Linked DNA regions of Homo sapiens. The protein of the gene in region 2 purifies or fractionates together with the protein of the main gene of each other region. This does not show direct contact. Each region holds a gene or a part of one and is shown on either strand. Other genes may lie near its edges. The genes, in order: TMEM59, FAM20B and METTL9.

The links.
Region 1: the proteins of FAM20B (region 2) and TMEM59 purify together in Homo sapiens (co-immunoprecipitation; one large-scale study listed by IntAct). This does not show direct contact.
Region 3: the proteins of FAM20B (region 2) and METTL9 purify together in Homo sapiens (affinity purification with mass spectrometry; one large-scale study listed by BioGRID and IntAct). This does not show direct contact.

Annotation. Positions count from the first base shown.
Region 1 is NC_000001.11:54,026,181-54,029,204, reverse strand, and holds the end of TMEM59 (transmembrane protein 59 isoform 2 precursor), read left to right. Parts: 3' UTR 1-2,524; downstream 2,525-3,024.
Region 2 is NC_000001.11:179,042,778-179,046,510, reverse strand, and holds part of FAM20B (glycosaminoglycan xylosylkinase), read right to left. Parts: intron 2,797-3,733; 5' UTR 2,664-2,796; coding exon 2,287-2,663; intron 1,739-2,286; coding exon of another isoform or gene 1,670-1,738; intron 1-1,669. UniProt on the Homo sapiens protein: Responsible for the 2-O-phosphorylation of xylose in the glycosaminoglycan-protein linkage region of proteoglycans thereby regulating the amount of mature GAG chains.
Region 3 is NC_000016.10:21,613,057-21,616,789, reverse strand, and holds part of METTL9 (protein-L-histidine N-pros-methyltransferase isoform 1 precursor), read right to left. Parts: intron 1-3,733. UniProt on the Homo sapiens protein: Protein-histidine N-methyltransferase that specifically catalyzes 1-methylhistidine (pros-methylhistidine) methylation of target proteins.

The DNA.
Region 1 (3,024 bases), about 130 Mb from region 2:
TCAGAAATCCCTGTGGTGCATCATGAGGCAATCTGAGCTGCTGATCAGCAGAAAACCCTGCACTGTCTGAGCTTATCTTCCAGCCAAAGGCAAACAATTTACCCTTTGTTATTAGTCTGTCTGGATTTGTCTTAGATAAATGAGCCATTTTTGTTACAAGTTTTTTAAAGATATACAGTAGTTCCATTATAATTTTTGTGGACTCAAATATCAAGTCCACATGTAGGGAATCATTGACAGAGATTTCCAGTTACTGTCACCACCACACCAAGGCAGTAATTTTGCTCAGTTCTGCCTTTATAGATCCACAATTTAACCATTCAACAACCACCTGAGATCCTGAGTGGCAGGCCCTATGCTAAATGCTAGGACCACAGTAAGACCCAGTGCCTGACCCCAATTGCTGAGACTCTGAAGGAGACTATTATTAATGTGATAAGTGCTATGACCAAGCACAGAGCACATAGGAGGAGCTGTATGCATTATGGGAGCACACAGGAGGACTTCTGGGAGAAAGTGATAGCCAAGCTTAAACCTGGAGAAAAAGGGAACGCCAAACACAATATAGAGAGCAGTGTACCAGACAGTGGGGACACTGTGCTCAAAGACCTAGAGGCCAGAGGGTGAGGCACTGCAGATTGTTGAGTAGGCCGAGATAGAGCATACAAAAGCATAACAAAAGATGGGGCTAGGCAGACCAGGTAATAAACCTGCACTTTAAACCTGCACTTGATCCTGAGCACAGTAGAGAGCCACTGAAAGATTTTAAGCAAGAGAGTGCCATACAGTGTTGGAATGATTCACTCGGACAGCAATGTGGAAGATAGACCAGAAAGGGCAAGTCCAGAGGCCAACAATAATCTTAGCCTCAGAGTTCTTTTTTTAATACCCAAGAATACTATTTCATTTTACTTATATTTTTAAACTTTTCTCTATAACGCTCTCTCTGCTCCCCCACATTGTTGTCTGGATGGTAAACCTAGGACTGGTCTCTGAGTCCTGGTCACAGCCTGGCAACAGAATGTTTGAGCAAACTGGGAAGGCTGCCCCATGGATCCCTGGTTTCTTATCACCATCCTCTTAATTCTACGTTTGCCAACCAGTCTCTAGGAAGCCAGCGTGCTCTTGCGCCCCTCCCACCAGGTTTCCAGTTGCTAAGCGTGTCATGTTTGCATTTGGGTATCATCTGCATGAGTGACCATTTTAATCTCTCTTTCCTTGACTACTTGTTCTACACTAGAGTCTAGGGTGGGGGTGAGTACAGTGGTAAAGACAGGGATAGCGGGAAATTTAGTCTTCTGTTTAGGAAGCTGGATGGTAGTGTGGATTTTCTAACTCCTTGTGGTAATTAAATTCTGGAGCACAGTTTTTAGACCTTTTCTGAAATCTGTTACTGTTGAAGTCAGCTTCATATATTTCACTTTTTTTTTTTTTGAGACAGAGTCTCACACTGTTACTCAGGCTGGAGTGCACTGGTACAATCTTGACTCACTGCAACCTCCACAGCTCCCAGGTTCAAGCGATTCTCGTGCCTCAGCCTCCCAAGTAGCTGGTACTACAGGCGCGTGCCACCATGCTTGGCTAATTTTTGTATTTCTAGTAAAGATGGGGTTTTGCCATGTTGCCCAGGCTGGTCTCGAACTCCTGGCCTCAGGTAATCTGCCCGCCTCAGCCTCCCAAAGTGTTTGGATTGCAGGCATGAGCCACTGCACCCACCCTATTTCACTATTAAGTACTCTCTTCCTGTGATATTAATGACTTATTTGTTTCAAACTTTTTTGTGCCATTGAGCTTTTTAGTGATCCAGTGAAGCCTGTGGACCCCCTCTCATAGTAATGTTTTCAAAGCATAAAACTAAATATAAAGGATCGCAAAGGAAACTGATCATGTTAAAATAAAGTTGATATTTTCAAAGTTTTATGATCCAGTAACATACATATTCTGTTAACACAAAATAAGACTGCATGGTGGTTCTAAAATTACTATAATTCAAATTCATATCTTGAAATATCTAACAACTGTAATATATCTAAATGTCTCATTTCTATTGGTGACAAAGTCACAGGTACTCTGATCCTACTGTGGACTGTTTCCTATATTCGTAATTGAAGGAAATGTTATATTTCAGTTAGAAGTTGGTGAAAAGAAAGATTTAAAATTTTTCCCATCCAAGTTCACCAGACCCCTGGTTTAGAGGTTGTCTTAATTTTACTTTTGTCATTTTAAGAGTAAATTATTTTGTTTTCTTGTTCAATTCTCAATTATTTGGGCTTATTTTACTGCCTCTTGCATGCTTTTTTATGCTTGAATGGTTTTTGCAGTGTTAGAACAGTAATAATTGAAGACTTGGGTGGAAAAAAATCAGCACCTGATTGAAAATGAAAGGTTTCAACAAAAGCTCTTGATAATGTTACCTCCAGGTGTACCATCATGCCACCATTATTGGTGCTACAAATCTGTTAATTTATTTATGCTTAAGTATGTAAACTTTAATAAAACTTGGATCATCTGCATTAAAAAATAATGCTATCTTGTAAAAGTGTCTACTTAGGTAATTCACAATGGGGTGGGTTTGTTGATTCCCCATGACATTTGCAAAGCCCTTTGTAGCACTCTCACCTATCACCTTAAATGGATTCTTATAACATCCATCTAGTGGATTAAAGACTTAAATATAAAACCCAAAACTACAAAAACCCTGGAAGACAACCTTCAGAATGGGAGAAAATATTTGCAAACTATGCATCTGACAAAGGTCTAATATCTAGCATCTATAAGGAACTTAAACAAATTTACAAGAAAAAAACAACCCCATTAAAAAGTGGGCAATGGGCATGAACAGACACTTCTCAAAAGAATATATACATGCTTCCAACAAGCATATGAATAAAAGCTCAACATCACTGATCAAAATATTTGCAAACTATGCATCTGACAAAGGTCTAATATCTAGCATCTATAAGGAACTAAATTTACAAGAAAAAACAACCCCATTAAAAAGTAGGCAATGGGCCGGGCGCGGTG
Region 2 (3,733 bases):
CCGGCTAATTTTTTGTATTTTTAGTAGAGATGGGGTTTCGCCATGTTGGCCAGGCTGGTCTCAAACTCCTGACGTCAAGTGATCCGCCCACCTTGGCCTCCCAAAGTGCTGGGATTACAGGCGTGAGCCACCGTGCCCGGCCATCTCTTTATATACAAATTTTATTTTTGTCTTTAGTTTGCCTTTTTCCATTACTCTGTTTATGCTGCTTATCTCTCAGGCCAAGAAGTCAAAGACCAAACTTCAAAGCTAAATGCGATTTTTGATGATGAGTGCTCCACGTCATCACTTATGGGAAGCAAACAAACTTAGAGAATTCCATGTGTGTGGCAGAATACAAGCTGTTTACAACTCTAACAAATATGGGTTCAAACTTCTGTACCACTGATTGATGTGAGGTGACCTTGTCAAGTTAGTTACACTCTCTGAACCTCAGTTTCTTATTCAGGAAATAAGAACTGAAATTGTCCAAAAAGGTTAAACCTTCGTATAAGGGTTTAAAGGATTAAGAGATACAAAAGTACTTAGTGTAATCCCTGGCAAATAGTGTGCATTACAGAAATTAGATCCCAGGCCCACATAACCACGGTTTTTTTTTGTTTTTTGGTTTTTTTTTTTGAGACAGGTCTCACTCTGTCACCCAGGCTGGAGGGCAGTGGCACGAGCATGGCTTGCTGCGGCCTCAAACTCTCGCACTCAAGCAATCTTCCCATCCTCCCACCTCAGCCTTCCAAGTAGCTGAGACTATAGGTGCACACCACCACGCCCAGCTAATTTTTTATTTTTTTATAGAGACAGAGTCTCACTACATCACCCAGGCTCAAGTGATCCACCCACCTCGGCCTCCCCAAGTGCTGGGATTACAGGCATGAGCCATCACGCCCAGCCCCAGTCAAATTTTTATTCTCTGAAAGTCTACCAAATGTTTTAACTTTCCTAATTTCCACATCACTGACATATATTTCCCAGTTCCAGACCAACAGTGATCCCTTCCATTTCTGGGCTCCCTATACATTCATGCTCTGACTGCCTTTCATTTACTAATAGTTGGGTAAGAAAGGGAGTTGAATTTTGTCCATCTTTTCCCTACATTTCTTCTCCCACTCCAGAAAGAAATCTAAAGTCATGTTATAATTTTTTCAAAAGCTCTACTGAGGAATGAAAAAAATGTTTAGTACCCAAAAGATTTCAGACATTACAAACTTTGAGAATATTCATTGGTAACTAACTCCCGGCAAAAGAATACAAATCACCATCATGATGTTAACCTAATTCAGATTCATACACTCAGAAAACATTTTTAGAAAATTAACTATACCCTCCAAGCTGTCTTGTGTAGAGAAATAAATAAATAAATAAAAATAATTAACTGTATCACAGAATTGTCACACAAATTATCTCTGTAGATCCCTAGGAAGTCCAAAGGGATCATGAACAACATACATATTTAGTTAACTAAGGTAACTAAAATGGCCCAATTCTTTACTTAAAACAGGTGAAAGAAATAAGAGATCTATTAGAACAGCTATGATCTGAAACACTGATGCCAAACCCTGGTGAGGATGTGGAGCAACAGGAATTCTCATGCATTGCTGGTAGAAACACAAAATGGTACAGCTACTTTGGAAGATAGTTTAGCAGTTTTTTACAAAATGAAACGTACTCTTACCATGTGGTCCAGCAATTATGCTTCTGGTATCTATCCAAATGAGTTGAAAATTTATGTCCACACAAAAACCTGCACATGGATGTTTATAGCAGCTTTATTCACAATTGCCCCAAACTTGGAAGCAACCAAGATGTCCTTCAGTAAGTGAATGGATAATTAAGCTGTGGTACATCTAGACAATGGAATATTATTCAGTGATAAAAACAAATGAACTATCATGCCACAAAAAGATATGTATAAACCTTAAATGCACTTTACTAAGTGAAAGAAGCCAATCTGAAAGGGCTTACATTCTGTGATTGCAACTATATTACATTCAGGAAAAGGCAAAACTACGGAGATAGTAAAAAGACCAGTGGGTTACCAGGTGTTCTGGGGCAGAGAGGGAAAAATGAGTAGGTAGAACACAGAGGATTTTTAGGGCAGGAAGACTATTCTATATGATACTATAAAGGTAGATTCATGTTAAGTGCTAGAAAAGACTTTAGAGATCTAGTCTACCCCTCTTATTTTACTGAAGAGACTTCCAAGAGAAGATGACAAAATAAATCTTATATAAATCCCAAGTTAAATGAATCAACCAACTAGCACATGCAGCTTCCAAGATCAAAACTTACCGCTTAGGTTTGAAAACAACTTTCTGGCCTCCTTCAAGTATCAGTAAGGCTTTCAGCTGTGTCCCTTTATAACCCACATCAGCTTTAATGATTTTCTTGGTGGCCATGGCATGCATGACTGCCCCCAGCTCTGGTGTCTCTTCAGGGTACACTTCCCGGGGAACCACCCACTGGGCTGCAATCTCCCAGGGAGACTGCAAGGTATGGTCCAGCTTGGGTGCCAGCTCCACCCGCAAGCCAGTCATCATTCGGTGAAAGGCCCTCTGGTCCTCCCGGTTGGCAGCTGATGTATCTAAGTTGTCAATCAGGAAAACTTTGGTGAAGATAAAAATGACAAGGAGAATTGCTAACAGCACGACTCGCTGCTTTAGCTTCATGTTGACCTCTTTTCCTTCTCCCCTGACCCACTCTTGCTCATGTATTAAGGAGAGCTGGTGGTGATGGTTAGCAAGGAGATTCCATGATTATACACATTGGTCCATTTCTTCACTGATGCACCTTCCACAGTTCCTGCAAGCCCAAGTACAAAGCAAAATTTGATCAAAAATTCTGTCCTTCCACCCCTGAATCTTTTGTAAGCCTCTAATATATGACTCACCCTTTTAGGCTTTCTATTCTTGAGCTCAAGAAGGTTCAATAATTTAAAATTAACTAATCTGGAGAAGGACCTAATGATGGCAGCAGTGGCCCAACTGGAGCAGCTGCTGCGAAGACACCAGCTGCAGTGGGAGAGGCATGGCCAGGGCTGCACACTCCACGGAGCTGGAAGGAGCTGGGAACAGGTGGGAGCCCTGCCCTCTTCCAAGATGGTGGAGCAGGGGCCCCGTGTTCCTGGGTACAGCTGCAGCCACCCAGCCACAGCTACACCCACAGGCTCCAAAATGCCACTCCTGCTGCCTGGCCTCTCCCCACTCCCCGCACCCACTCTGGGGTGGAGCAAAATTGTGGCAAAGCCCAGGTGATGTCGTGACCTGTATATATGTGGTTGGGGCAGTGCTGATACACCAGGCCCCTGCTGTCTCAGCCCACTCCGGACTTTGGGCACCAATGAGCATGGGAGGGAGGCCAAGGGAGGACTGAGGATGGCTCAGTGTAGGCCTGCAGGCATCCCTTGGTACAAACAGCTTGGGCACTGTGGATGACATGAATGGTGGCAGGAGGCAGGCTCCTGGGCGGAAAGGGATGGGTCCCCAGTGAAGCCCCACCTTCAAGCCAGGGATGGCCTGAAGCATGGGGGCTGGGCTGTCGGTTCTGGTTAAGAGTCCGCAAACCACAGTGAGAACTTATGGTGCTTTTTCTGGGCCCACCCATGGCCACCCATGGGCCAATCAGCACACACTTCCTCTCTTCTGAGCTCATAAAAACCCTGCACTCAGCCAGACTCAAACAGATATCCGGACAACCTGCGTGCACAAGGGATCTACCCACTGTGGGTCTCCTCTCCACT
Region 3 (3,733 bases), on a different chromosome or scaffold from region 2:
CAGGAAAAAAGAGCTTTAGTATAACAGATTTTTAAGAGACACTAGAGAAAAGAGGGAAAAGAGTGGTCCTTGTGATGTCGGTTAATATGCATTAAAGTAGATTCGTACTTATGTCAGTTTATATGGTTACAACTGTCTGGGTCCTATTATTTCTAAAGGTCCTAGAAAACACTCAAAACCATAGTGATGCCTTTGAAAAAAGAGACTGAGGGGAGTTTAACTGGAGATTGAAGAGAACCCTCAGAAAAGCAACTATAGGTCCAGCCAAGTCTCATGGAAGCATCACTCTGGGAAATAAAGCGCAATCCCTATTTAGGACTTGTTTTCTAGCTCTGAAATTCTAGTTTATCTAGGACAGGGATTCTCAACCCTCCTTTAAGCAGCAGAACCCTTTCTTTAAATGAAGTGGAACTCACAGATAACATAAGATCCTAAGAGAGCTGCTGCTGTTCGAATGAGGTTGGGAGCCCAGGAGCTGTGGCCAGCCCACTTCTAGGCCTTTCTCTGCAGCCTGAAGCAGTTCCTGAGGCACTTCCTCCTCAGACCCTAGAAAACAGTTTGGGGACCACTGGTCCAGGAAGTGGCAGGGAAACCTGTTCTGTACTGCTGCTCTCTGGAAACAATCATAAGGTACAGAATGTTTGCTGCTATACAGTGACTGGAAAGATGCATGCAACACGGTGCCCAAGGTAAGACCAGTTTTAGGAAAAAATACAAATAATGGAGTTCATGTAACAAAGTCCCCCTTCCTTTTCCCATTAAGGCCATAGGAGAGTTTAACCAAGTTTACAGTAAATCTTCTGCCCCCATAGAAATGCTAAAAATTTGGAGAAAGACCTCAGAGACCACTAAACGTGATGCTACCGACTACAACTGCTTACCAAAGAAAATCACGTCTCATAAAAGACAAGTTGTTTTAATCCTCAATTGTTCATATATTACAGTAAGAAAATAAGCAAATCTGAACTTGCTGAAGTAGCTGTACAAAATTTAACACAGAAACCAGTCACAGCAGAAAGAGGCTACTGGCAGCATGGCTGAGGGGAGGCGAATTTCAAATACTGATGCTGACTTGCCACAGGACCAAAAGTAAGTCACAAAATAGTTATTTTGCTTAAATTTTCCCAGAGCGTGCTTCCCAAGCCATCTCCTTGGGATGTGAGGAATCTTGACATGATAATTATAAAATTCTAGAACAAGAGGTCACCTGAGCTCAGAGCTCACAAGTTCATCTGACTGGTCTACATTTATAGGCACTAGAGGCTGGGCATGGTGGCTCACGTCTGTAATCCCAGCATTTTGGGAGGCCGAGGTGGGAGGATCTCTTGAAACCAGGTGTTTGAGACCAGCTGGGCAACATGGTGAAACCCCGTCTCTATAAAAAATACAAAAATTAGCCAGGCACGGTGGCATGAGCCTCTAGTCCCAGCTACCTGGGAGACTGAGGCAGGAGGACTGCCTGAGCCTGAGGAGGTCAAGGCTGCAGTGAGCCATGATTGTGACACTGCACTCCAGCCTAGGCAACAGAGCGAGACCCTGTCTCCAAAAAAGAAAGAAAGAAGGCACTAGAGAAAGAGGGGAAGCATTGTCCTATTTCGAAAGAACATTAGCAACAGGGGCTCTACAAAAAGATTAACACTGTCAAAAAATAAATCAAAATCCATCAAGCCCAGTGTTTATCAACCAGGATTGATTTTGCCCTCTAGGGGGCAATGGGAGTAGACAGGAGAGTTTCCAGTAATCACAAGGACCTGGGGGTACTACTGCCATTTAGTGGGCAAGGCCAGAAAAGTTAGACTTCCTGCAGTGTGGGGGGCAGTCTCGCACAATGAAAAACAGTATCACCTAAAATACTGAGCCCAATACAAAGTTTCCCATAAACACAAACCATGAAGAGATATGACCCTCTAATTTGGGTTTAACTTTAGTGTTTAATAACCATCCTAGGTTCTCTGATCACAATCTAAGTTCTCTCTAGACTTAAGAGTCTACGGAGAGATGCACCTCTTCCTTATAAAATAAACTCTGGAACATCTACTAAGTCTTTCCTTACTTGGCCTTCTCCTTTCCAAAATAAAGGAAGTTTGATAAGTATCCTAAGGTAATACAAGACAGTACTACAGTAATGATTTCTGTGAGAGATGGCCACCTGTAGTAATTATCTCCCACTGCCATGACCGGAAAGTACTGATGGGCCCTAAAATTTAGTTTTTAGCTGAGAATGGGACACAAGGCAAGAAGGACTGAAAGCAGGGTGGGTATCAGAAGGAAAAAGCAGAAGAGTTTTAAGTAAGGGAAGCCAAAAGGGGTTTATTAACTGCATTGCCTCTTTGATCAAACTGTGAAATTCTAGAGCACGGAATTTTAACCAGGGTCTTATGGGTAGAGGAAAGGGGAAATAAAAGTTTGAAGCCCCCAAAATCATACACAAAATGTTGAATGTAAGCACTTTTTGAAGAGAGGATTCCTACCTTTATCACTTTCAAAGAGCTACAGGACCCCAGAAAGGATAAGAATCTCTGCTACAGTGACTCATCTGAATTCCAAAGGAAGAATAAATGGTATAGAACAGAAATTCAATATAACCAATTTAAGGAACAAAATGTCAGACCAAGTTGTATCAACTCAACCACCCATATAAAAATAACAACTGTTTGCCAAAGCAAACGTATGGCAATTTCACATAAACAATGAAGAAAATCAACTGAGAAATCTTGAGAAATGGCTTGCGGTGCCTGAAGACTTAGGACCAGATGATACACTGGGGATCCAGTCAGTCAGTAGAAACTGCTCCAAACCTCAAGGGAAAAGAAAAGTGGGCCCAACCAGTGGTTTGAGTGGTCCAATGAGGCTTCTTAACCATTGAGCCTGTTGCTTTTCTCTTTGGCATTTTAGATTCTAGGTCCTTAGGAATGCTTGAAAACATGGCCAAGAAAGGATTGAAAAAAAAAAAAAACAAAAAAAACTCCTAAAGCTTTTTCTATGGATTTATATGAGGGAACCACTCTGGGGACAGAGAATTCCACAATAAGTTCATAAAATTCTGGTGAACCTAGACATTATTTAAGAACAGATGCAGGACTCTTCACTCAAAATAAGCCATCATCCACTGTTGGGCTGACTAATTATATCTCCCAAAAAAAATTTGCCACTGCGAAGTATGTTTAAGGCAAAGATCTTACTTTTCAGCCTAAGGGCGTAAAGCCCTCAGCTTCAGGGCTTGGTTCCAGGAGTCTTGCTACTTTGTGGTCCAGAACCAGCAGCATTCAGCATCACTGGCATCGTCTAAGAGCTTGTTAAAAATGCAGACTCTCCAGGTGCAGTGGCTCCCACCCATAATCCCAGCACTTTGGGAGGCAAAGGTGGATGGATCACTTGAGGTCAGTTAGAGACCAGCCTGGCCAACATAGAAACCTCGTCTCTACTAAAAATACAAAAATTAGACAGGTGTGGTGGTGCACACCTGTAATCCCAGCTACTTGGGAGGCTGAGGCATGAGAATTACTTAAACCCGGGAGGCGGAGGCTGCAGTGAGCCCAGATTGCCACTGCACTCCAGTCTGGGAAACAGAGCAGGACTGTCTTTAAAAAAAAAAAAAAAAAAAAAAAAAAAAAAAAAAAAGCAGACTCTCAGACCTAGCCCCTGATGTACTAACTCATAATCTGCATTTTAACAAGACCCCCAGGTGATTCCTATGTACATCAAAGCCAAGAAGCACTACCGTAAGTAACTC